Regions from separate parts of the Homo sapiens genome. Here all the other regions are reported to be linked to region 3. Evidence: microRNA targets listed by miRTarBase, many of them from high-throughput screens and not tested one by one. Region 3 holds a microRNA gene; each other region holds the end of a gene's coding sequence.

Region 1 (8,207 bases), not on the chromosome of region 3:
ACATGGATTTTTAAACCCCTGCAGATTTTAATATTCTATATAAATGTTTTAGGTGGCATATATGAGGTTTGTATTAACATTTGCTTTCTATTTAACATTGAAATGAAATTATACAGCAGAGGTATTTTCTCGTCCAAGTTGCCACTTCTTTCTATCTTTTTTCTTTTCTTTCCCAGTGGACTGCCTGGGAAAATTGATATTTTAAATTGCTCTCTGCAATAATTTGCAATGGAACTGGAATGCCAGGGTTCTGAGTCCTTGCCAGACAGCTCGTCCCTCCTGTTGGCATGACTGAGTCAGCTGTCATGATTCCCTCAGTACCAGTGGCATGCCTGTGACAGACAGCCTGTCTGCCTTTCATTCCCGTCGTCTCCCTTGTAGGGTTCAGATCCAGGATACACTGGTCCTGGAGCCCCTCTCAGCCTGGCACCCACAGCTGCTGGGTTCCTTACTCTCCTGGACTGCTCTGATGTCATCTCCCTGCTCAGCAGAAAGAAGTCTGGGATCTTGATGCTTTGGCCCTCTGTCCTAGGCCCTAAACCACCCATTGCCCTTCACATAACCTGAGCTGGGGCTAAATAGATCTCTCATCACTGCCTGCCTGCTCCTGTATTTTCCCTTCTTGGAGCTTTTGCCTGTTCAGATCCCTCTACTGGAAATTAATAGGATTTCATTCTATGTGTGCATTTCCAACCTTTCTTCACAGTGCGATCCAAATGCCTCATCCTACAGGCCTCCTTAAAACAACCTGCTTTCTGCCAGACCCCAGGGAGCACCAGGACTTGAGGCTTTTATTGCACTTCTGTTGTTTTTTTGAGATGGAGTCTCGCTCTGTCGCCCAGGCTGGAGTGCAGTGGCACGATCTCTGCTCACTGCAACCTCCATCTCCCGAGTTCAAGAGATTCTTCTGCCTCAGCCTCTCAAGCAGCTGGGACTACAGGCATGTGCCATGACACCCGGATAATTTTTGTATTTTTAGTAGAGACGGGGTTCACCATATTGGCCAGGCTGGTCTCAAACTCCTGACCTCGTGATCCACCCACCTGGGCCTCCCAAAGTTCTGGGATTACAGGCGTGAGCCACCATGCCCAGCGTTATTTCACTTCTGCCTCTGTAATTATATTGCTGTATGGCTATCTCTTCTCTCCCTGGGAATGTCAGGTCCTAGGCACAGGAACTGTGTCTGTACCATATCTGGTGCCCAAAGAATGTAGTATGTGTTTTATAGATATCATGTAAGCTTAAACAGCGTGGTCTACATTTTTGTAAATGTCTTTCTTTTTCTTTTCTCTCCAGAATGAGAGAAGACAGTGCTAGAGTCTATGAAAACGTGGGCCTGATGCAACAGCAGAAAAGTTTCAGATGAGAAAACCTGCCAAAACTTCAGCACAGAAATAGGTATTTAAATGCAAGTGCTCTATTGGTTAATTGTTTATATAATTGGCAGTATTTTTAAGCAGGCAAGCAATTTGGGAATGTTTTAGCAAAGTGTACCATAATTGAGTTTTACAAACCAGGCTCCTTTTTCCTCTCCCTGTACTTCTTTTTCCAAGATGGTTTTAGTTTAGAGTTCATTAAACATTAAAATCAAACACAGAATTAATTCTGCATGAGGCAAGGCTAGCACTTATTCCAGAGAAATGGCTGATACTGGTGGTAGAGTGCAGGTATCACTGTTCCTGCAATTTTTATTAGAGTTGGTTAGCCCAGGCTGTGCTGGGGGATGATCTGTAGGGATCTGGGAAGCATCGGGACTCAGCACTGGGTGGTTGGGAGTCAGGAAGCCTGAGTTCTCATTTCAGTCAGTCTCTGACCAACTGTGTGGCATGGGGTGCTAGACCACTTGGCTGCCGACTGGGTCACCGACATCCCTTCCAGCTCTGCTGCTGGAAATTCATCTCTCCCATATGTTGCCTCCCCATCAATTACGTTTTTTAAGTGTGACCCAAGTATATGATGTATGTTTTCATGATAAATTAGAAACTTATCTGGGCATGGTGGCTCATACCTGTAATCCCAGCACTTTGGGAGGCTGAGGTGGGCGGATCACCTGAGGTCAGGAGTTCGAGACCAGCCTGACCAACTAAAATAGTAGAGACCAACCCGTCTCTACTAAAAATAGAAAATTAGCTGAGCATGGTGGTGCATGCCTATAATCCCAGCTACTCAGGAGGCTGAGGCAGGAGAGGCAGCGGTTGCAGTGTGCCAAGATCGCGCCATTGCACTCCACCTGGGCCACAAGAGTGAAACTCCATCTCAAAAAAAAAAAAAAAAAAAAAAAAACTCAGTGTCAGTATTTCATGTCGAAATTCCACTTCAATGGGTAGTGTAGTTAAAAGCTCTAAGTCTACCTTAAAATCACCTAATGCTTTGTTAAGCTTTTAGATATATGTTCCTTAAAAACTCTTAACTTATTTCTTCCCCAGATGTGGACTTTCACCCTCTCCCTAAAAAGATCAAGAACAGACGCAAGAAAGTTTATGTGAAGACAGAATTTGGATTTGGAAGGCTTGCAATGTGGTTGACTACCTTTTGATAAGCAAAATTTGAAACCATTTAAAGACCACTGTATTTTAACTCAACAATACCTGCTTCCCAATTACTCATTTCCTCAGATAAGAAGAAATCATCTCTACAATGTAGACAACATTATATTTTATAGAATTTGTTTGAAATTGAGGAAGCAGTTAAATTGTGCGCTGTATTTTGCAGATTATGGGGATTCAAATTCTAGTAATAGGCTTTTTTATTTTTATTTTTATACCCTTAACCAGTTTAATTTTTTTTTTCCTCATTGTTGGGGATGATGAGAAGAAATGATTTGGGAAAATTAAGTAACAACGACCTAGAAAAGTGAGAACAATCTCATTTACCATCATGTATCCAGTAGTGGATAATTCATTTTGATGGCTTCTATTTTTGGCCAAATGAGAATTAAGCCAGTGCCTGAGACTGTCAGAAGTTGACCTTTGCACTGGCATTAAAGAGTCATAGAAAAAGAATCATGGATATTTATGAATTAAGGTAAGAGGTGTGGCTTTTTTTTTTTTCTTTTTTCCAGCCGTTGACCAATTATAGTTCGGCTGTTGACTGAGAAGTTTGTGGTGGGAAAACGTTTGCCATATTTTCTTTGCATTTGAATAATTGTCTTGTACTTAGAAAAAAGGCGTCTATGAATGACCAGTGTTTTTGGTCGCCAAATGTTGCTGACAAACTTATCCCAAAACTTTAGTGGCTTAAAAAAACCTGCCCCCAACTGTTAGTCAATCTGAGCTGGGCTCAGCTGGGCTGTTCTTCTGCCAGCCTGCAGGTGGCCACTCATGTGGTCAGCAGGTCGGCGGAGAGACTGGGATGGCTGGGCTTCTCTCTCTGCCTGCAGTCCTGAGTCTCTCCTTCTTCGTGTAGTCTCTTTCAGTGGCCTGGCTGGCAGGGTAGCTAGACCTCTCACATGCAGCTCAGAGCTCCCAAGAGCTCAAAAGCAGAAATGGCCAGGCCTTCTGAAAACTTAAGTCCAGAATTGTCACAGTGTCCCTTCTACTTCCCTCTATTGATGATGATGATGATGATGATGATGATGATGATGATGATGATGATGGTTTTTTCTAATCAGAAGAAAGCTGGGGTATGCCCTCTACTTACTAAACAAGTCACAAGCCCAGCTCAGATTCAAGAAAAGGGTGTGAAGTAGAGGTGCAGTTAAGTGGGGGGCCACTAGTCTAACAGACGGTCACAACCAGTGCCATGGAAAACCAAGGATATTAGCAAAAGCAGAAGTTGCTAGTGACCTTGGGAAGCCGAAGCTGCTTACAGTAGCTGGGACAAGCTGAAAGTCAGACTAAGAAATAAAGAGAGGGCCTTCAAGAAGCTTCCTGAATGATTTCTGCTAGCCCTGAGCCTATTTTTGGAACCAGCACTTGGGGAAACTGATCTTGTGAGGATGGATGTGTTTAGGGACACAGGGCTTTTGAGAGCAGCACCACCCCACTGGGGCATCCCCAGACTTGGGAAACGTGACTCTTTCTTAATGCCACTGGGTTTTAGTCAGGCCACAGTGAGAAGGAACAGCCCTAACAGGCCTCCAGCCAGGTTGAATGAGCTCATTTTTGTTGTAGCCAACCAGTAAGATTTGCTAATGTTCTACATTAAGTGCCTTCTCCAAAGACATCCCTCTTTGCCTCATATGTTGAATCATCCAGTGCGGATATTTCAATGAAAATATCATTGGTTGACTTTTGTGATGGTAATAATGCTATGGCATCTTTGCCATGAAGTTGTGGCCTCCTTGGATTCTTCTGACTTTGGCTTCTGAAAGGAAGGCCTAGATCCAGCCCTGGTGGTAGTTCCTTTCTGAGGTCTCTCAGTCCCTTGAGACTTTGGGGTAGTTTGGCTGCCATTCTCACTGACAAAATGTATATCAGCCCCCACCTCCACCCCCCAATATTCCTTGAACTTTGAATTGCTTCAGAACACAGGTGTGGCCTGAAGGTATTCCCTTATTAGGGAAGTGTCACTGCTGTCTTCTAGTCAAACTTGTAAAGAAAAAGATTCCAGTTCAGTATTTGCAGCAAGAAGCTTGAATGCTGTTCTTTTTATCGCATTGTTACATCGACTCATTCTCCATTTTGCTTTGGTTTTGTCTTGACTTGACTTGACTTTGGGGGTAAAGTCTTTCACCAGCACACAAGAGTTTGATTGTACAAATATATCTTCTGCATTAACATCTCTGCCTGTTGCTTAAGATCAGTTGCTTTTATACTCAGAATGGAAATACCTGATCTTGGCTAGTTTTGTTATAAGATATTGATTTCATTTAGATTTCCCTCCACGAGGTCAGCAAACTATCATGTTCTTATGTAAACTTAGGCCAAGGCCAGAGTTATCATAGTCCCTAGGTTGCTACGGCTTATCATGTGCTTGGTAAAAGGTGATCGCAGGTTCTCAGACGAGTTTACTTTACATGAGATGGAATCAGGCAGAGAGGCTGGGATGATGGAGAAAGCTCGAGGTGAAGTTTTAAAAAAAAAGTTGTGGAAAGGAAAGTTCCAAAGAGGTGGTTTCTGAGGAAGTCAGAGCGCCCAGGGCCAGAGCAGTCAGTAATGGGTGAATGAGGTTGTTTGGAAAGTCGGTGTGACAGACACATGGATGCCATCTACTTCTAGGTTGCTGGTGGGTATTAAATATGCACAATATTCCATAGCTCACTGAGGATTTTAAAATTATAAGCATAGGATTTTATATTTTGGGGTGAAAGAATTATCTGGCACATTAGGTATTGGAGTTTAAAAAAAAAGCCAAATTTCACAGTCTTAATAACTTTTTTTAAAAAAAACTAAAAGGCGCTTCATGTCCAGTGTGTGGCCCTTCTGAAACTTATGGTCATCTCTCCCACTGAAACCAAGGTCTTTTCAAATGTGGCTAAATGGGGATGAGGAGACACGGGTAGGACTTTCTTGGTGTGTGTGCATTCTTTAAAGAGCCAAGTTGCTTCGGGGAAACAGCCAGGAAAATGGTCAAGATTATTTTTAGAGGTTATTTTATTGGGGATTTTAAGAACTAATAACATCTTGAGTTATTTTTAATTCAGGGGGATGTGGAAAGGTTTGCAATTGTCAAGTGTTTTGTTGTAGCTTAGTATCCATAAGGGAAACTTAGACTATAGACATAACTACAAAGCCAGTGCAGCTTTTGTTTTCTGTATGTTGTTGGGGGATCAACTTTCACACATAGCAAGCACATGGCCTCCCTGATGTCAGGATGCCTTTGTTAGGATCTGTATTTGCCCTTAATTTTGTTGAAATCTTTTTTCCTTCTTCCTCTTGAAAAGTTCCAAAATATAGTTTATTGTATCTTTCATCACTAAAAATTTGTTCCTTTTTCACTATGGGCAGTTCACACAAGGCAAAAACTATTGAACAGTTGGTTTTAGTGTGTTGTATAACTTTGCTGTATATCAAACTAATTTTGACAAGTTTTCATCCTAAGCCTCAAATCATGTAATTAATAATTTGCCTGTTTATTTATGACCTAATTGTGATTCTTTTATTAATAAAAGCTAATGGGAAAAGGATCCCTGATTAAGCTGATGACTAGACCTACAATTAATTTTCCTGCAGTATATGAAGTATTGTACCAGAGTATTAAAAGATATGTAATATTTTATTGATAAATCTATCCTTTAAAAGGAATACGTTTTAGGATGTCATCATTTTGATGTGAATCATGTAAATGTTGATAATATGCTGTTTATTATACATTTAGTGTTTCAAGAGATTCACTTAATTGCCTTTTTGCCCACGTATATTATGTAGTCTATTTGCAACTGTTCTTAAAAAAATGACATTAAAAGAATAGTTTATGTAGAGAAACATTAGTGGATGTTAATTGTCTCCCCACCTATATTTATGGGTGTTAGCGCAACTGCTTTGCTAGTTGCAAAGCTGTATTATCAGAGTAAAAGTGTATTTGTAAACTGTATGGGAACTAAAAATTAGGAATAAAACCATTTTCTTATATGATGGCATTTGTCGTTTGCTTCATCAGAAATGTCCAGGAAAAAAATGGGATTATTGGTCACTCCACCTCTCACACTGGCAAAATACTGACATTTAGCAGCTCTTATCTAGAAGTGACTTGGAACATAGAATAAAGGCATGAGTTCCTGAAGAATTCATTGAGTGTTTCCTGTAGAAATAGCTTTAGGAGATAGGGAGTTCTATCTGGGAGAACATATGAGTAACTCAAGAGTAAAAAGTATAGTCTGTGTAAACTATAGAAGAAATGCTGGGCATGGTGGCGCGCCCCTGTAATCTCAGCTACTTGGAGGCTGAGACGGGAGGATTCCTTGAACCCAGGAGCCCAGGAGTTTTAGACCAGTCTGGGTAACATAGTGAGACCCTTTCTCACCTACTCTCACTGCATGCCCCCCAAAAATATATATGTGCGCGCACGCGCGCGCACACACACATACACACACACACACACACACACACACACAGAGGAAATTGTTAGAAAACACACAGAACTGAATGTAAATAGTATTAGGTGGGAATAAGAAGTAAAGGGATGGTAAGGAGGCTTGGAGGAGGAGTAAATTATCTGCTATGGGACATCAGCTCTTCCTTTAGAGTAGGTTTAGGTCACATACCAACAGGGCCACTTTGTTCTGACAACAGTGTGCACTGACATGGGCAGAAAGAAACCATTTTATAGATAGCAAAACAGGTGGTTATTCTTTATTAGAAATATAAGGAATGATTTGGATTACTTATTTACACTGTAAAATACTATGACCCCCCTCTCAGTCTCATTTGAATTGTTTAATGCATCTAATCAAATCTAGCTGGTTTAGTTTGTTAGTCCTGTCACCTGTCCATTCAGAAATACAGAGCATGGGCCAGGCACAGTGACTCATGCCTGTAATCCCAGCACTTTGGGAAGCCAAGACGGGCGGATCACTTGAGGCCAGGGGTTCGATACCAGCCTGGCCGACATGGCGAAACCCCGCCTCTATTAAAGATACTAAAATTAGTTGGCCATGGTGGCGCATGCTTGTAATCCCAGCTACTCGGGAGGCTGAGGCATGAGACTTGCTTGAGCCCAGGAGGTGGAGGTTGCAGTGAGCCAAAATTGCGCCACTGCACTCTAGCCCTCTAGCCTAGGCGACAGAGTGAGACTCTCTCTCAAAAGAATAAATAAATAAAAATAACAGAGCACCTTCAAAATACTAGGCACTACACCTGTGCCCTGGGGAGGAACGCTGCCCGAAACAACCTGATAGGGTGCCTGTCTACCAGGGAGCTAGGCCTTGCACCGTCAGAAGGCAGTTCCTGAAGCTGCCCAGAGCCAAGACAAAAGACAGAAGTGAGACGACTAGTTCCAAACAAGATAAGAGCCATGAAGAGGGGCTAAGAGTGTGTATCGCACCGGAGGATTACTACGGGGTTTTCAAACCATGGTACTGTTTGGTGATTACCCTTGGGTTTCAGAAGAGGTGCTGTACACAATATTGCTTGGAGACACCTCATTCCACATAATCCTTCTTGAGGTCCTGGATTGCATGTTAGAGGGCAGTGACAATATCTTGTCCTTGGCCATGCCATGAAATGACCTTCTGTTTGTGTAGTTCCTACTCACAAGAAGAGTTCCCAAGAAAATGAGTACATTAAAGGCAGAGCCGGAATCCCTGCAATAAATCCTGCGGACAGAGA
Region 2 (8,207 bases), not on the chromosome of region 3:
TTGCCTCTCCACATTTTAGAAGAGAAAGGTTTGAGCCAGGTTGCAGTGACGGTCCAGGCTCTCCTGGAACTTGCCCCACCCAAGCAACAGCAGCACCAGTTATCTGCTGTTTGAGGATCCCCAGGACGGTGGGCACTGGCCTGGCCAAAACAAGGAACAGGACACCGTGATTGCTGCTGCCAGCTGTCTGCTTAAACAAAGCTCTTGTGTGTTCTCAGAAGGGACCGTTCCCATGATTCCTAACAGGAATATTTTGCTTCATTTCTCCATTTTAGGGGAGGTTATTTCCATTTCCATTGAATTTTTTTACGAAGACACCATTGGTTTTCTCAGATGAAACTTCTCTTACTGAAAACCCAGCACCTAACTTGGCTGTGTTTTCCTGGAGAGCAGGCGTGTTTCACGTGCCAGAAAGCACATCTTCTGTGTTAGGCACAAGCATGCTGTGCCATTGTTTTTACCTGGTCTCAAGACAACTGGTCTGCTGGTTTCTAAACTTGGTTGTTCATTAGACTCTCCTGGAGTATTTGTTAAAATACAGATTCACATTCAGTAGAGCTGGGGTAAGGCCTAGGAATCTGCATTTTCAACAACCATTGCACATGTTTTTGTTTTTGTTGGAGAAGGAGTTCTGCTCAGTCGCCCAGGCTAGAGTGCAGTGGCATAATCTCAGCTCACTGCAACCTCCGCCTCCCGGGCTCAAGCGATTCTCCTGCCTCAGCCTCCCGAGTAGCTGGGACAACAGGTGCCCGCCACCATGCCTGGCTAATTTTCTTGTATTTTTAGTAGAGATGGGATTTTGTCATGTTGGCCAGGCTGGTCTCAAACTCCTGACTTCAAGTGATCCACCTGCCTCGGCCTCCCAAAATGCTGGGATTACAGGCGTGAGCCACTGTGCCCGGCCTCCCAGAGTGCTGGGATGACAGGCGTGAGCCCCCGCGCCCGGCCTCCGAGAGTGCTGGGATTACAGGCGTGAGCCACTGTGCCCGGCCTCTGAGGGTGCTGGGATTACAGGCGTGAGCCACTGCGCCCGGCGCCCGGCCCATTGCACGTGTTTTTCATGTAGTGGAACCACTGTTCAAAGCTAGATATTTGTATGTTTGCGGGGGAGGGTAATGGCCCCCTGCATTTTTCACCCACATTTAAAATCAAAAGCTATATTATGAGGAGTTGGACTGTTCTGTCAAAGGCAAAACAAAAATAATATAGAAGGCCTAGGTTTTGCATAGTCTTCTTTTTTTTAAGAGTTGGGGTCTTGCCGTATTGCCCAGGCTGGTCTGAAACTCCTGGGCTCAACTGATCCTCCCGCCTCAGCCTCCCAAAGTGCTGGGATTACTGGAGTGAGCCATCGGGCCTGGCCCAGATTTTGCATAGTAAAACAGTGAAACAGATAGAGTTGTATTTAAGGTCAGTATTCTAGGCCTCCCTTCAACTGCAGTCATACCATCATAGAAGATAGTTCTATGTCATCCTGTTATCTGGACATTATAATAAACAACAAGCCCTCTATACACAGGTTCCAAACCCCGTTATCTAGACATTATCAACAACAAGCCCTCTCTCTATACAGAGTTTCCAAATTCTGAAGCTGATAGCGCACTTGGTCTCACTGAGCCTCCCTCCCCGCCCTCCTGCTGCTCCTCAGACATCTGGGCCTGCAGACACATTGCAGTTACAGCACATACACTTCTAGCTCGGAAAAGCCTAGTTTCTTGTATTTCTTTCAGGTAACTGCCAGTTTCTGTGGCTGAATTTAAGCACTTACAGCATCTTCCTAGCTGGGTGTGGTGGCTCACACCTGTAATCTCAGCACTTTGGGAGGCTGAGGCGGGCAGATCACCTGAAGTTGGGAGTTTGAGACCAGCCTGACCAACATGGAGAAACCCCGTCTCTACTAAAAATACAAAATTAGCTGGGCGTGGTGGTGCATGCCTGTAATCCCAGCTACTCGGGAGGCTGAGGCAGGAGAATTGCTTGAACCCAGGAGGCGGAGGTTGTGGTGAGCCAAGATCGTGCCATTGCACCCCAGCCTGGGCAACAAAAGCGAAATTCCATCTCAAAAAAAGAAAACGCGCCCCATCTCGCTCCACCACAAGCGCCTTTATATACTCAATGATGGGTGGAGGAAAAGGGCCCAAGGGCTCACACCGCACAGGAGCCTTTACTCAAGTTTCAGCTAGTTTTCCTTCCCCTGCATTTTGAACTCCTTTTAGTTGTTGGTGATATCCTTTGGTGTTCACTGCCTTTGTAAAACAAGTAAATAAAGTAAGCGGAAGATATCTCTTTTGTTTCTGTAGTTGTTAACTGTTCTGGATTTTCTTTACAATGCATCCATTTGGGCATAATGTTATCCCTCTTTTTATCAGGTAAATGTAGCATCTAAAAGTAGCTTTGGATCAAATCATGTTGAATACCTGGTCAAAGTAATGTTTTCTTCCTTGTTCTTGCAGAGAAACAAATTCATCAGAACATTACCACTTGACCAGGTTTAAAATTGTATAACAGGCTGGGCATGGTGGCTCATGCCTATAATCCCAGCACTTTGGGAGGCCGAGGCAAGAGGATCACTTGAGCCCAGGAGTTTGAGAGCAGCCTGGGCAACATAGCAAGACCCTGTCTCCCAAAAATTAAAAAAAAAAAAAAAAAACCAGGTGTGGTGGCACCTGCCTGTACTCCCAGCTACTCAGGAGGCTGGGGTGGGAGGATCACTTGAGCCTGGGAGGTTGAGGCTACAGTGAGCCATGGCTGCACCACTGCACTCCAGCCTGGGCAACAGAGTGAGACCCCATCTCTAAAAATAAATTGTACAACATCTAACTTCAATGCCCAATCTTATAGAACAAAAGTAAAATGTCTTTATGTAAGACCCCATTATATTTACAGTTCCCAACAGACCCACCAACTCTTATATACCCTTATATAACTTGTTTAGAATTTAGCCATGTGCATTTTTAAACTGTGTTTGTCAACATTAAGCCTCAGTACAGTCTCCAAATTATATGCCACCAGAAATGAAATTCAGCAAAGGACAGGATTGTTTTTAACATACGCAAGCCAGCCTGGCCAACATGGTGAAACCTTGTCTCTACTAAAAATACAAAAATTAGCTGGGCGTGGTGGTGGGCACCTGTAATCCCAGCTACTTGGGTGGCTGAGGCACAAGAATCGCTTCAACCTGGAAGCCGAAGGTTGCAGTGGGCTGAGATTGTGCCACTGCACTCCAGCCTGGGCAACAGAGCGAGACTCTGTCTCAAAAAAAAAAAAAAAAAAAAACCCACCAAACCAAAAATATACTATGCAAGGAATAATTCTAGAAGACATTACATAATGCAATACTTGCAACATTTGCAACTAATTTTCCCATAGGGATAAATGGAAATTTCAACTTATTTCAAATTTTGCACATATTATGAAACCTTATTAATGTATTTTTATCAAACTAAATCAGATTTGTATTTGAATTGTTAGGAAAAACCATGTGCAGTTTTGGCTGATAATTGAAGGAAAAATATCAAATGCTTTGAATTTTTTTTCTCTTTTTTCAAACCCTCTGCAGAGGTAGGAAGGTATGAATTTCTTTTTTATGTCAAGATGCAAAAACAAATCATGATGCTTTTGTTGGGAGAATTTTTGTATTCAGTATTTTGTATGTACCTTTTTTTTTTTAAATTGGAAAGCACAATTCGGTTTAACATTTAGCTTTGCTTGACTCCAGTGTAAGATGAAGATGACCTTGTCACAGCTCCCCTGACCTGAAGCAGAGCCCTTCCCATCACTGACAGTGTTGGGGGTTGAGAGCCCCCCAGCAGAGCCCTTCCCATCACTGACAGTGTGTCGGCAGCTGAGAGCTCCCCCAGCAGAGCCCTTCCCATCACTGAACAGTGTTGGCGGCTGAGAGCCCCCCAGCAGAGCCCTTCCCATCACTGACAGTGTTGGGGGCTGAGAGCCCCCCAGCAGAGCCCTTCCCATCACTGAACAGTGTTGGCGGCTGAGAGCCCCCCAGCAGAGCCCTTCCCATCACTGACAGTGTTGGGGGCTGAGAGCCCCCCTAGCAGAGCCCTTCCCATCACTGACAGTGTCTGGGGCTGAGAGCCCCCCCTAGCAGAGCCCTTCCCATCACTGACAGTGTTGGGGGCTGAGAGCCCCCCAGCAGAGCCCTTCCCATCACTGACAGTGTCTGGGGCTGAGAGCCCCCCAGCAGAGCCCTTCCCATCACTGACAGTGTCTGGGGCTGAGAGCCCCCCCTAGCAGAGCCCTTCCCATCACTGACAGTGTCGGGTTGAGAGCCACCCCCAGCAGAGCCCTTGCCACGTACAGAGATTTTCTGTCAGCAGTTTCCCAGTATTTCAGACTCATAATCTGTGTTTAGCACTCCAGTGTTCTCTTGTAATAGCCAGGTCTGGAAACGACCCATGGAAAGAGGGGCCTTTGTATTCTGCTAGAACACAGAGCATAGTAGTAGATCACTTTTCTGAAGAGCTTTTTAAAATACAGCTAATCAAGGAGTTTGCGATTTCTCTTACTTTCTACAGCTCAGCAGTGACTAATGATGTGTGACTATGCGAATGAGTTTGATGAATTCGTAAAAACTAAGCGCTTAAATGGTTATAGAAATGAAAACATGGATATTTAGAAGCCTTTCTATATACACAGTGCAGTTGAGATGGTTTACAGCAAATTTCGTTTTATTTCTGAAAATGTTGTAAACATGTAATTAGTGAAAGATTTTGTAAAACATTGTCCTGTATTTTTGTCTGTAAATATATTGCATAAGTTCTAAGTATAAATATGTCAGTATCATGTATGTTATTTTAAATTGCCTGTACGCCACTTTACACATTGACATTCAAATAAAAGCCAACACTTCAGTGGCGTGTAATAAAAGCTGATTGGAGCGTGTTCATACCTGAGGTGTGGTTCCCTTGGCAAAGGTGAATCAAGGAAAGAGCATCTCATTTCCAGAGGGAATGTCAGTGGAAATGGGGGCTTCGGGACAAACTTTTGAGATCAAATTCATTTTTTAAGGAAGTACAGATATCAAGACTGAGCTTTATTTGGAGTTAGATAGAAGGCTTAATTCATGAAATGTATGTGACACATTAGGACAACTTTGCTCTTGGAAACCTTTAGCATCCCAAGGCATTGTTTTGACTCATCAAGGCAAGCATGATCTGGTGGGTGCATTTTTTTTCTAGGAGAAGAGGGAGAGTGACAGCTTTCCTATTTGCCAGGCACAAGTTAGATATTTTCACACACCTGATTTCTTTTCATCTTAACACTCCATAAAGTGGGGATTGGTGGCTCTAGTGTTTCACTTGTCAAAAATATCTCCAAACTAGCCTTCCAGAGAACCTGTGTCCCCATCTTTATAGTTTGTAAAGTTGTATATCCTAACATCCTATTTCTAGCTTGTATTTATAATTTGTATCCCTGTTTCCTAGAAAAGTTGCTGAAGCAGCTTACAACTGGATATGTATTCCATGCCATTTTCACCTGAATAAAAACACCAAAGTGACGATAAATCTAAAAGGCAGGCAGGAACCAACATTTATTAAAACTTTGCTGTGTATATATTATGCTGGACAGCTAATAACATCATATTGTAATTCCTACTGAATACTTTTGCTCATAAGAGTTTTTTCACTACAGACAAATTGGGTAAAATCAAAATCTGACATTACAGGAATTACTCAAGTTTCAATGCGTCACTGTAGCTAAGCCAGTGAACTCCTTTGTTCTGCTGAGAAAGAGCAAGAAGAATGAATCTTCACAGGACTACTAGAAACTTCTTCCCAGCAAGGTATGAGGAAGCCCTAAGTCAATGGTGTAATCCTAAATCAGGGTTTGAAAACCCACCTAACAGGCAGAGTGAAATTAACAGGCAAAGTGAAATCAGGCTTCCCTGGGAAAGTCTCAATAGGAAACAACCTGTAGATGAGTCATCTTTGAGGTACCAGGTGTTTCTTAACTCTCTCCAAGTCCTTCCCACCTCCAGAATACCAGCAGAAAACACAAAAGAGAACTTGGTCACTTCTTCTTGCCTCTCCTCTTATCCTTGCCTTTACCTTTGCCTTTTGAATCCTTGCTATCAACTTTGTCTTTAGGCATCTTGAAACCACCAATTTCTCTCCGTATCATAGTGCCTCGCCACCAGGCCTGGAGCTGGAAGAGAAAAGGGGAGTGAGTACGACGTATGCTATGCCTGACAAGCTGCATTCTTTCCACATAAAGGGACTGTTGAATAAAGTAACTTCTGTCTGACAAACAGTCTCTCTCCAGGACATGGAAGTAGCCAGGCACGTAATCACTTCAGCGATGCTCTCCTGTCGTGCAGGACCCGGAGCTTAAGCCATGGACTCAAGAGTGAAGTTCTCAAGTAAAAATAAAGAAAAGGAATCTGATTTGACCTATTTTTTCTTCACCCGTAGAAATCTGACTTCCTTATACTGCTTTCCTTGAGGAAAGTCCAGGTTCCCCATACTTAACAGCTATTTGAACCAAAAAGAATGTTAGTTACCTGGGCCAAGGGCAAAAGCACTCGGCCAAAAATGCACAGATAATGCCAGGTGCGGTGGCTCATGCCTGTAGTCCCAGCACTTTGGGAGGCTGAGGTGGGCAGATCACTTTGAGCTCAAGGGTTTGAGACCAGCCTGGGCAACATGGCAAGACCCTGTCTCTACAAAAATACAAAAAAGAAAAAAAATTAGTCAGGCCTGGTGGCTTGTGCCTATAGTCCCAGCTGTTTGGGAGGCTGAGGCAGGAGGATCTCTTGAGCCCGGGAAGCAGAGGTTGCAGTGAGCAGAGATTGCGCCACTGCACTCCAGCCTGAGTGACAAAGTGAGATGCTGTCTCAAAAAAAAAAAAAAGAAAAGCACAGATAAGTCTAGATGACTTTCATAGGCTTGCTTGTGCATTTCATATCTTTAGTGATTGCTTAAAAGATCAGTTGTCCTAGTACTTTTAAAAAAGATTTAGTTAGCTTTCTTGAATATCTTGGTTTTAGATAACAGTTGTTCTCAATACGGTCTCTACTGCTTTAAAGTCAGACTAAACCCTAAAGACTGGAAGCAAATCCACTAGTGAAAAGAAAGCAAACGTGCTCTTCAGCTCGTTCTTAACATGTTTGTTGTAAATTCAGGAATACTGACAAGTTTTATGGGGAAACACCATTGAAACTTGATAAATACTTGCTACTTACACATCTGACTCCTTATGGGAAGCCCAACTTTGGGTCTGGATACCTGGTCCAGAATGTGGTATAAAACTTAACTATTTTAGATCACCCTAATATACAACCCAAACTACAGTGTACCCACTAGGGCCTCGACCTTCAGAGAGAAGGGCCAGCTCCAGACAGGTGCCGTCCAGCTTTCAGTTTTTGCTTGCGAGTATTTCACGTGATCTGTGACCTGCCAGTTTCATCATCACTGAGACACACAAGTTCACATAAAACTAAAATATCTCTATTTTTTTCTAACTTGCTGCTTATCCTTCCCACCTAAGCAGCTTGTATCAGAACCCAGCAGATAGTCTGGGCTGATGTATAAGCAGGATTTTAAGAAGTAGAAGGATATTAAAAAGAATCATTCTGTCAAGAGCTGGTTTTGGTTAGACATAGTAATCTGATATTTCGTCTCTTGGCCTAGGTTTTGCTTCCGCTGCTAACCACCTCTTTTTCCCCAGATGAAGAGCTGGGGGCACGTCCTTTTCTATGTTAACTGTCTCCCTGCACCATGGACTGTTGGCAAATTCTAATAATAACAAAAGTCCATGCTTCTTCTCAGATCTGCAGTTCCTTGATATACTGAGATGTGTTTGATAATGAATTGGAAATGCTTTTGTGTTCCTCAGTGTTAAGCCAGCTGTGGCGAGATACTGATTATGGTTCTTTACCTTTATAACGCTCTTTAATTCCAAGAGATCCTGTTTTACCTTCTTCTTGCTCCTCTCCTTTTCTATACGATCTTCAATGATGACCTGTTCATACTCTCTTATCTGCAAAGATAGACATTCATCATTTATTATAGTACTCTCTTGGCTAAGCTGTAGCCCAGCCAGCCCTGCACTTTTAATATAAAATTTCAAAATAAAACATGCTCAATCTAAAGATAAACCAAAGAAAAAAATGTAATAGATTCCTAGATGGTAAATATTCACATATTAACTTTATAATTGTTCCCAAAACTTTTTCAGTTTTAATAATTCAA
Region 3 (8,207 bases):
AGTAGTTAGCTCTTGTTGAACTGTTCCCTTTACCATCATGCAAGGCCTTCTTTGTCTTTTTTTTTATCTTGTTGGTTTAAAGTCTGTTTTGTCAGAGACTAGGATTGCAACCCATGCTTTTTTTTTTTTTTTTTTTCTTTCCATTTGCTTGGTAAATTTTCCTCCATCCCTTTGTTTTGAACCTATGTGTGTCTTTGCACATGAAATGGATCTCCTGAATATAGCACATCAATGGGTCCTGACTTTTTATTCAATTTGCCAGTCTGTGTCTTTTAATTGGGGCATTTAGCCCATTTACATTTAAGGTTAGCATTCTTATGTGTGAATTTGATCCATCATCATGATGCTATCTGGTTATTTTGCACAACAGTTGATGCAGTTTCTACATAGTGCCATTGGTTTTATATTTTGGTGTGTTTTTGCAGTGGCTGGTACTGGTTTTTCCTTTCCATATTTAGTGCTTCTTTCAGGAGCTCTTGCAAGGCAGACCAAATGGTAACAAAATCTCTCAGCATTTGCTTGCCCAGAAATGATTTTATTTCTTCTTCGCTTATGAAGCTTAGTTTGGCTGAATATTAAATTCTGGGTTGAAAATTCTTTTCTTTAAGAATGTTGAATATTGGCCTCCAATCTCTTCTAGCTTGTAGAGTTTCTGTTGAGAGGTCTTCTGTTAGTCTGAAGGGCTTTGCTTTGTAGGTTACTTTGCCTTTCTCTCTGGCTGCCCTTAATATTTTTTCATTCATTTCAACCTTGGAGAATCTGATGATTATGTGTCTTGGGGTTGATCTTCTCATGAAATATCTTAGTGGTGTTCTCTGTATTTCCTGAATTTGCATGTTGGCCAGTCTTGCTATGTTGGGGAAGTTCTCCTGGATAAAGGATAGGTAAATTCTATGGGTAATACAGTAGATATAGTGCAACAGGAACTTACCAGTTAAGATACAGTCATAACCACTCACCCCTAGTTGGAATGTAGGTTTCACACAACTCCCACTGATGAAAAGAAATATATGTATTTTTCAACTGTTTAACCCTTTGTTAAGTTTTCTTGTGTAAAATTATCTGCAGAGCCATGAAAAACCATTTGATATTTGTGACTAAGCAGCCTGTTTGGATGATTATGCTCTTCAGTATGAATGGTGAGCTGTTAAATGACATGCTCAATCATTGCTATGGAAGAAATTTGTTCTTACTAGCAACTTGAAGCTTAAAGAAACATTTATAGGAAAGAAAATTACTCAAAGCTTTAAATAAGGCTACTTTTAGAGTTGGCCTTAGACTACCTAGAGGGCATGATGATTAATCTTTCACAAATTACAGATTTTATTTGTTCATGTCCAGTGAGGTGACTTCTTGGTGGACATCTTCATTGCAATTTTCAGCAGCTCTATCAATGACACATGTTAACTGAAGCTGACATGGGTTGCTCTTGCTCTCTTGGAATGTCTTTATTTCTGTCCTAATATGCAAAGGTAGTGCCAGAATTTCTTAATAGGAGGGCCTCAGGTATAACAATCTAGTTGACAGGAAAAGCAATGGAATCTTCACTGCATTTGCATCACAAGCATACTGTTTTTTCTTACGTGTGTTTTTTAGGGTGTCTTGGGATGTTGATCCTCTTTAAGTCAAATAGAAAAAATGAAAATGAAATGCCATAGCCAATATTAGAGATATATTAATTTTAGTCTTTGTTGCTTTTATATTTTTCTAGGACAAAGAGATCTTCAAAAATCAAAAATGAGGTTCACATTTACAAGCCGGTGCTTGGCACTGTTTCTTCTTCTAAATGTAAGTAAAACAAAAGTATTCAAAGCCATGCTAATGAAGAATGCTGAATAAGGAGGAATGTTTTGAGTGTGATTTAATTAGTATTTGCAAGGGTAGGCATTGGTCTCCAGAAGCCGAAACTAAGTTCCTCAAAGCCATTATTTTGCTTAATATTTTGTTAACAAATCTCTCCTCTGAACTGTCTCTAATTTAAATTAGTGTTTGTGGTCTACCCAGAAATTTGAGTTTTGTTTACAAAACTTTAGCATTAATTTTAGACATCTCCATATTATCTTAGAAATTAACATAGTTGGTAAATAATATTCTCAGGTAAAATGTTTTCATGTTGAAAAAACTATGTTTTGAATCTTAGTTCAAAACTATGATTTGAATGATAGTTTCTGGGCTGTTCAATCCTTTTAAAACATCTGGGCTGTTCAATTCTTTTAAAACTTCTGAACTCTTTCAGTCTGGCTATTGATTTCAAATGTATTTTTCATCAAAAACTGACTATGGAAACTTCAAGTCTTTATATACCACTATTATTCTATAACTCTTTCTCCAATCTTTTAAATTATGTTCAGTTTGTGTAATTCTATATTGTTTTATTCCTAAAAGATTTAGCAAGTAATCGGAAATATAATCATCTTAGAGAACACTATCAATGCCTATTATTTGTGTCAACATTGTTAACCTACCATCACATCAGCTTCAATAGCACATGAATGGGAGATGAGTAAATTTTACGTAAATCAATGTGGAGCTGCCTTGCTTCTTATCCTTTCTGTCACATCAGAGTAACATTTGCTAATAAATTACAGTTGGCAGCAAAGATCACTCAATATCTCATACTGTCATACTGACCCACACAAAGCTTGCATAGGGTTCGAGGATTTCCATTGTTTATTAATGTGTAGTTATAGGCCTACAAGTCTGTCTAAACTGTTTGTCTTTATATTATTCAAGAAAAAAATATTGCTAGTATTTCATAAATGTTAATTTAATTTGTAAGGCAATTTTTATTTTGTAATATTGTACATCAAATAAATGGTGTATGGGAATGACTATTAATGCAACCCTTTTGCACCTATTTGGATAATGAGTATAACTTATTTTATTGTCAGTTTGTCTTATCATTTTATCCTATTAAATATTTCTTTAGATAAATTACAGTAAAATTTTCTAAAAGTAATTAGTATTTGGAAATGCAGGTTTCTTTATGTCACTGGAAATATAATAAAAACACTAAACAAGACTACTATGGAAACTAATAGAATATTTTAATTTGCCAGTAAATACCCAGGCCTTATGTGGTCTTCTATGGATGTAAAAATATTGCTATATATTATTGATATTGTTATTTTTCATAGCTCAAATGAAATCCTAAGTGATCTGGTATATGTGAATATTTTTGAATAATCATGCTTCATAAATAATTATATTGAACATGACAGAAGAAAAACTAAAGAAAGAACTAAATACTAACAAAATTGTTTGAAGATTATCTAATTACCTTTTTTATTACAAAGGCTTTAGAAAATTTGTAGTGTGTTCAAAAAGCAACGTAGGTCATTTTTATTCAAAACTTTTACTAATGTAGTCTATAATTTAAATATTGAAAAAAATGCACATCTTTGCATGAGCCATGGACAGAAACATTTTATGGCTTGTGGGCACCTCTTGACCAGCAAGCATAACTGAACAGGGCACTTAAATGGGTTTGTGCTCTCTTTGCTGTGACAGAGAGAAATTTGCTTCTCTCTCTGTATTTGGATTATATATTTGATTTGGAGGATTTGTCCATAAAACAAAATTTGATATGTCCATTTTCTTCAAAACGTTTATTATGTTCACACTGACACTTCTCAGAGAAAAAAAATTTTAATGACAATGTTCCTAATTAATCCGAAATATTACTTTTTAGACAATAGATTGTTGTGAAAATACACTAACTATTGAACTCTATCAACTCGATTTCCATATAGGTTTTAAAGTCTCAGTTTGGGTCACCACCTTCAATTAGCCTCTTTCCATTAACCATAACCACCCACTCAATTCCTCTCCCTCCTGCGAGGTATACAGTAAGCTTAGAGCAGCAGTTGGTATACAGTGAGCTCTCAGAAAAAGATGCCAGTGACGATGCTGATGACAACAAAGCCAATGGTAATAACAAAGACATAAAAATTAGGTTCTTCAGAGCAGGTGTTATTGTTACTTGTTTACTTATCTATGTTCACCTATTTGCTTTGAATTTATGATATATGCAGTTTCGTTGTTTATATAATGTAAGTAGAATTACACAGTACACCAGCCAGGCATCTGATCTTACCTGGGAAAACCAGGGCTAACACTTTTTACAACAGTGTGCTTTGTCCTTTCTTATTTTGAAATGTGTAAGTAACTGAAAAGCAAAAATAATTATATACATTATCAACATTAAGGATGGTGACATGAAAATCTCATTGGTTGCATCAGTTTGTGGATTCTAGGTTTACATACTTTTTAGAGTAGTTTTGCATGTGGCAATCAATAGGAAGCTCTCCCTTCAGCACAGCAGCTTGGGTCCATACACTCAGTGGGCTTGAACTATTGCAGAGATGGACCATTTCTCAAAGTTCCATGAAGAACAGCTCTGTAACTGTCTCTGTACTTCTAGAAACTGCCTGTAACCCAAAAGCAAACTGACTGTCCTACATCACAGTAGGAATTGCATAAGCATATGACCATTTCAAATCAGATTCCTTTCCTGTGGATTCCATGATTAGTGTGGATAAAATCAAGAATGTAAGCTCTATGAGAGCAGGTGGCTTGCCAGTTTGGTTCACTGCTGAATTTCCAGAACCTAGAAGAGTGCCTGACATGTGAGAGGCACTCAAAGTATTTGTCGACTGAAAAAAACTGATGATGTTTGGGCTGCTGACTACTGCTGTTGGTGGCAGCTTGGTGGTCGTATGTGTGACGCCATTTACTTGAACCTTTAGGAGTGACATCACATATACGGCAGCTAAACTGCTACATGGGACAACAATTAAGAGTTTTGTTTGTTTGTATGTTGAAAAATCATGTAAGATGGTTTATATGCAAAGCTTTGAAAACTGATGTTTATTCAGAAAAACAATATGCCCTTAATATCTCATTTCTATCTGAATGTGAACATATAATCATATTTTTATTTAACCCCCTGAAATAAGTAGTATAGACATAACACTTATAATAAGTAGGATATTTGAAGTCTCTTACATTGTTTGGTAGTTTCATCCAATCACTACTGGTTTTATTTTGTCTCTGTATTGCTGAAAATGATACCACCTTCCCAGCAATTCTTATTTGTATAAAATTATCAGCAAAAGTTTAACATTTAATAAACTTTATGAAATTTGTATATGTGTTATTTTTAAGCAGTAGTAATTCCATGATTGTAATTATATATATATAATATACATAAAATCATACATATACATATATTTATATGTTTATATCTATCTATCTGTCTGTCTATCTATCTATCTATCTATCTATCTATCTATCTATCTATCTATCTATACAGTCAGCCCTCTGTATCCATGGGTTGTACATCCATAGATTGAACCAATCTTGGATAGAAAATATTCAGGAAAAAATTGTATTGTAAACATACAGACTATTTTTCTTTTTATTATTTCCTAAATAATACAGTATAACAACTATTTACATCATATTTACATTGTACTAGGTATAAATAATCTGGGGATGATTTAAATAATACAGGAGGATGTACATAGGTTATATGCAAATACTACACCATTTTATATGAAGGACCTAAGCATCCTCAGATTTTGGTATCCACATATGCAAATACTACACCATTTTATATGAAGTACCTAAGCATCCTCAGATTTTGGTATCCACAGGAGGTCCTGCAACCAATCCCCTGAGTATACCAAGGGATGACTGTATGTATAAACGTAATGCCCCAATGGGTATGTTATTTTAGGAAGAAGGCCACTGAGACATTCATCTACTGTTGGGAAAATTCCATCTTCAGTGCTCAAATATGAACCAGACCAGGAACTGATGCAGATTATTACTGCTCATCTGACAACAGAGGTTCTAATTTTTCATTCCTTCAGTGTTGAAACAATCTCTACTGAACCAGCTTCAAACAAGTTCACTGGAGTTTGTTTCAATATTGCAAGAATGATAAGATGGAAGCTACTTTCATCAGCATGAATTATAACTACTCGTATACAGATTGTCGTATTTCCACTGTTACTGATGTTAAAACTGCATTAAAGCAAATAAAAATATAATTGAAAATACAAGCATAGGGTTTTCTACTTGTTATCCTCGGACATACTATTTGCCTATGGTTTCCATGAATTTCCAACTAGAGCAAGAAAATCTCTTGGTTGGTTGTCAGCCATATAAAAAGAGAATTCAGAATGTTACTTTTGGGAAGAAAGCCAGATTTAAACAAAATACTTCCCAGTGTTTAGCATATCTAATACAAGTGACAGATAAGATTTATATATGACATCATGTTCCATCTTCTAATTCGATTTGAAGATGGTGAGAAAATGGTCCAGAAATTAATAATACATCAAATGATCATTCTCATATTAACTGAAGATTTTAGAGCCACAAAAGAAGAATCTAAAATAAATGTATAAGTTGAACCAATAATTAATATCTCTATTGTGAAGGCATCATGATCCATTCTTGTTTTGATGGTTGCCTAATATGTAATTGAATTTTTAAAACACACATATTCATACAAAAGTTGAGTAATAAACTAAAAAAAGAAACCTCAACATGGAATCCCTTCAAATTACTCTTTTTTAAAAATTTTGCAAATCGTGTTCCAATTCCATTAGGAATATCTAAGAATTTTATGACTGATGATTCTTTATTGTTCATAATTTCAAGTATCAGAAATATATTTTATAGTGTTGGTCCATCTTGCCAGACTGTAAGCTCTATGAGAGCACAGTCTACACTTATTTTATTCAGCACTGTATCCTCAGCATCTGGCACAATGTTGGGCTCATCAAGTTTGATCAATATTTGCTGACTGATCTGAAGACCAGTGGGGAAAGTGTCATATATCAAAAGAATTGTGTTCAGCTACACTGGTAAAGGATTTGCACAGTTATAATCATTTTTATGGGTTCATTACTTTCTCTTCTGACATAAATTCAAGAGACATTAAAATTAGAAATCAACAAAATGTTTAAAGAGTAGTGTCAACCTTATTCACAATTGGTGTCCATTTGAAGTTATCACAGTAATGTTATAATAATGATAAGTATTCACCCTCTTCTCTTTGCAAGATATTTCCACTAGGATGGCTTGCTACCATCTCCAAATCTAACCCAAAATAGGACTTACTTACCAAGGGGGAGAAGTTCCCCCTAATAAGGTTTTCCTTTCCCAGCATCTTCCCTTTCTTGGGAACTATTTTTTTCCCCAAATATCTAGGCTAATTATCTGGGCTATTTGACTATTACTGTTTCCCATTCCTTGTATTCAAATATGCCTTCATGTTTTTATTATTGAGAAGGTGCTAAGAGTGGTACTTTCTTGTTCCAACATGGACTGATCTAGTCCAGCCAGGCCTTCAACTTCCTGGCTGCCCCCACCCCACCCCGCAACTTTAACCTGTGGACATCTGATGCCTGCTGCATGAATTTTACTAAAAATTCTCCTTTCACAACCTTCACTGATCAAAAATCTACAAAACATCTTTATCATATATATTATGTTATATACCATGTTTTAACAATATTAGCTAAAATGTTTTGAACCTTTCATGTCCCTGACACTTGGTGTTTATTGTCTTGTTCATCCTCACAACATGACAGATGATAAATATTATTCTTACCGCTCTTCTTATTTTACGTTTCCTAGGTTGAGGAAACAGATCTAGTGAGAGGTTGCTAACCTGCTCAAAGTGACAAAACAAGTTTTAACTCTTTTTTTGTTATCTGAAGATTCAGATAATGCAGTCTTGAAAGCAAAGTCCTGACCTTCTTACCCTCAAATATGCTCCCCTTCAGGCAAGATGGTTTTCTCACAGTGGCTCATGCATGTCATTTCCAACCTCCAGACTTTTGTGGGAAAGGTCCCTCCATCCCAAAAGGCTTCTCGACCCCCCCTTGTGCCTATGCAGAAACTTCCCACACTCAAGATACAATTCAAATTCTACCTTGTATCTGTAGCCATCCTGAATATTTTTGCTCCCTACTCTCTCCAAACTCTGAATTTTGATTGGATTCTGTGCTGGACAGCTTAGCAGTTAGTGATGTGCTGTCGTGTAGGACATATACAATGACACACATGGAAAACAGTGAGGATTCACCATGAAGAGCCAGGAATATACATGTCAACTTAATAGGGATGAGTTTTGTTTAGAAACTAGCACATATAGAAGAGTACATAACACCACTTCTGCCATCAATACA

What was found. The annotated mature microRNA hsa-miR-489-3p reads GUGACAUCACAUAUACGGCAGC and lies in region 3 at 4,751-4,772, shown strand. An mRNA with a match to its seed (bases 2 to 7 or 8) in the 3' UTR can be bound and repressed. Matches are read on the target gene's strand: a 7mer-m8 pairs with bases 2 to 8, a 7mer-A1 pairs with bases 2 to 7 and ends in A, and an 8mer does both.
Region 1: the mRNA of PTPN11 is a reported target of hsa-miR-489-3p. Seed matches in the 3' UTR shown: 7mer-m8 at 5,746-5,752 and 7mer-m8 at 6,196-6,202.
Region 2: the mRNA of DRC9 is a reported target of hsa-miR-489-3p. The part of its 3' UTR that is shown has no 7-base or 8-base seed match.

What each region holds. Positions count from the first base shown.
Region 1 is chr12:112,503,399-112,511,605 of GRCh38, forward strand. PTPN11 (protein tyrosine phosphatase non-receptor type 11) reads left to right here. Exons shown (of 16, transcript NM_002834.5): 15 at 1,297-1,398; 16 at 2,427-6,520. The coding sequence ends at 1,366. Among named protein-coding and RNA genes, the nearest start is that of PTPN11, 89 kb to the left of the region's middle.
Region 2 is chr3:197,883,553-197,891,759 of GRCh38, forward strand. It overlaps DRC9 (dynein regulatory complex subunit 9), which reads right to left. Exons shown (of 12, transcript NM_032263.5): 11 at 7,894-7,995; 12 at 5,525-6,162. The coding sequence ends at 6,028. LRCH3 (leucine rich repeats and calponin homology domain containing 3) reads left to right here. Exons shown (of 21, transcript NM_001365715.1): 21 at 1-4,884. The coding sequence ends at 114. Among named protein-coding and RNA genes, the nearest start is that of RPL35A, 63 kb to the right of the region's middle.
Region 3 is chr7:93,480,512-93,488,718 of GRCh38, reverse strand. It overlaps MIR489 (microRNA 489), which reads left to right and starts at 4,700; the gene lies at 4,700-4,783. CALCR (calcitonin receptor) reads left to right here. Exons shown (of 14, transcript NM_001742.4): 3 at 1,712-1,788. The coding sequence starts at 1,738. It overlaps MIR653 (microRNA 653), which reads left to right and starts at 5,864; the gene lies at 5,864-5,959.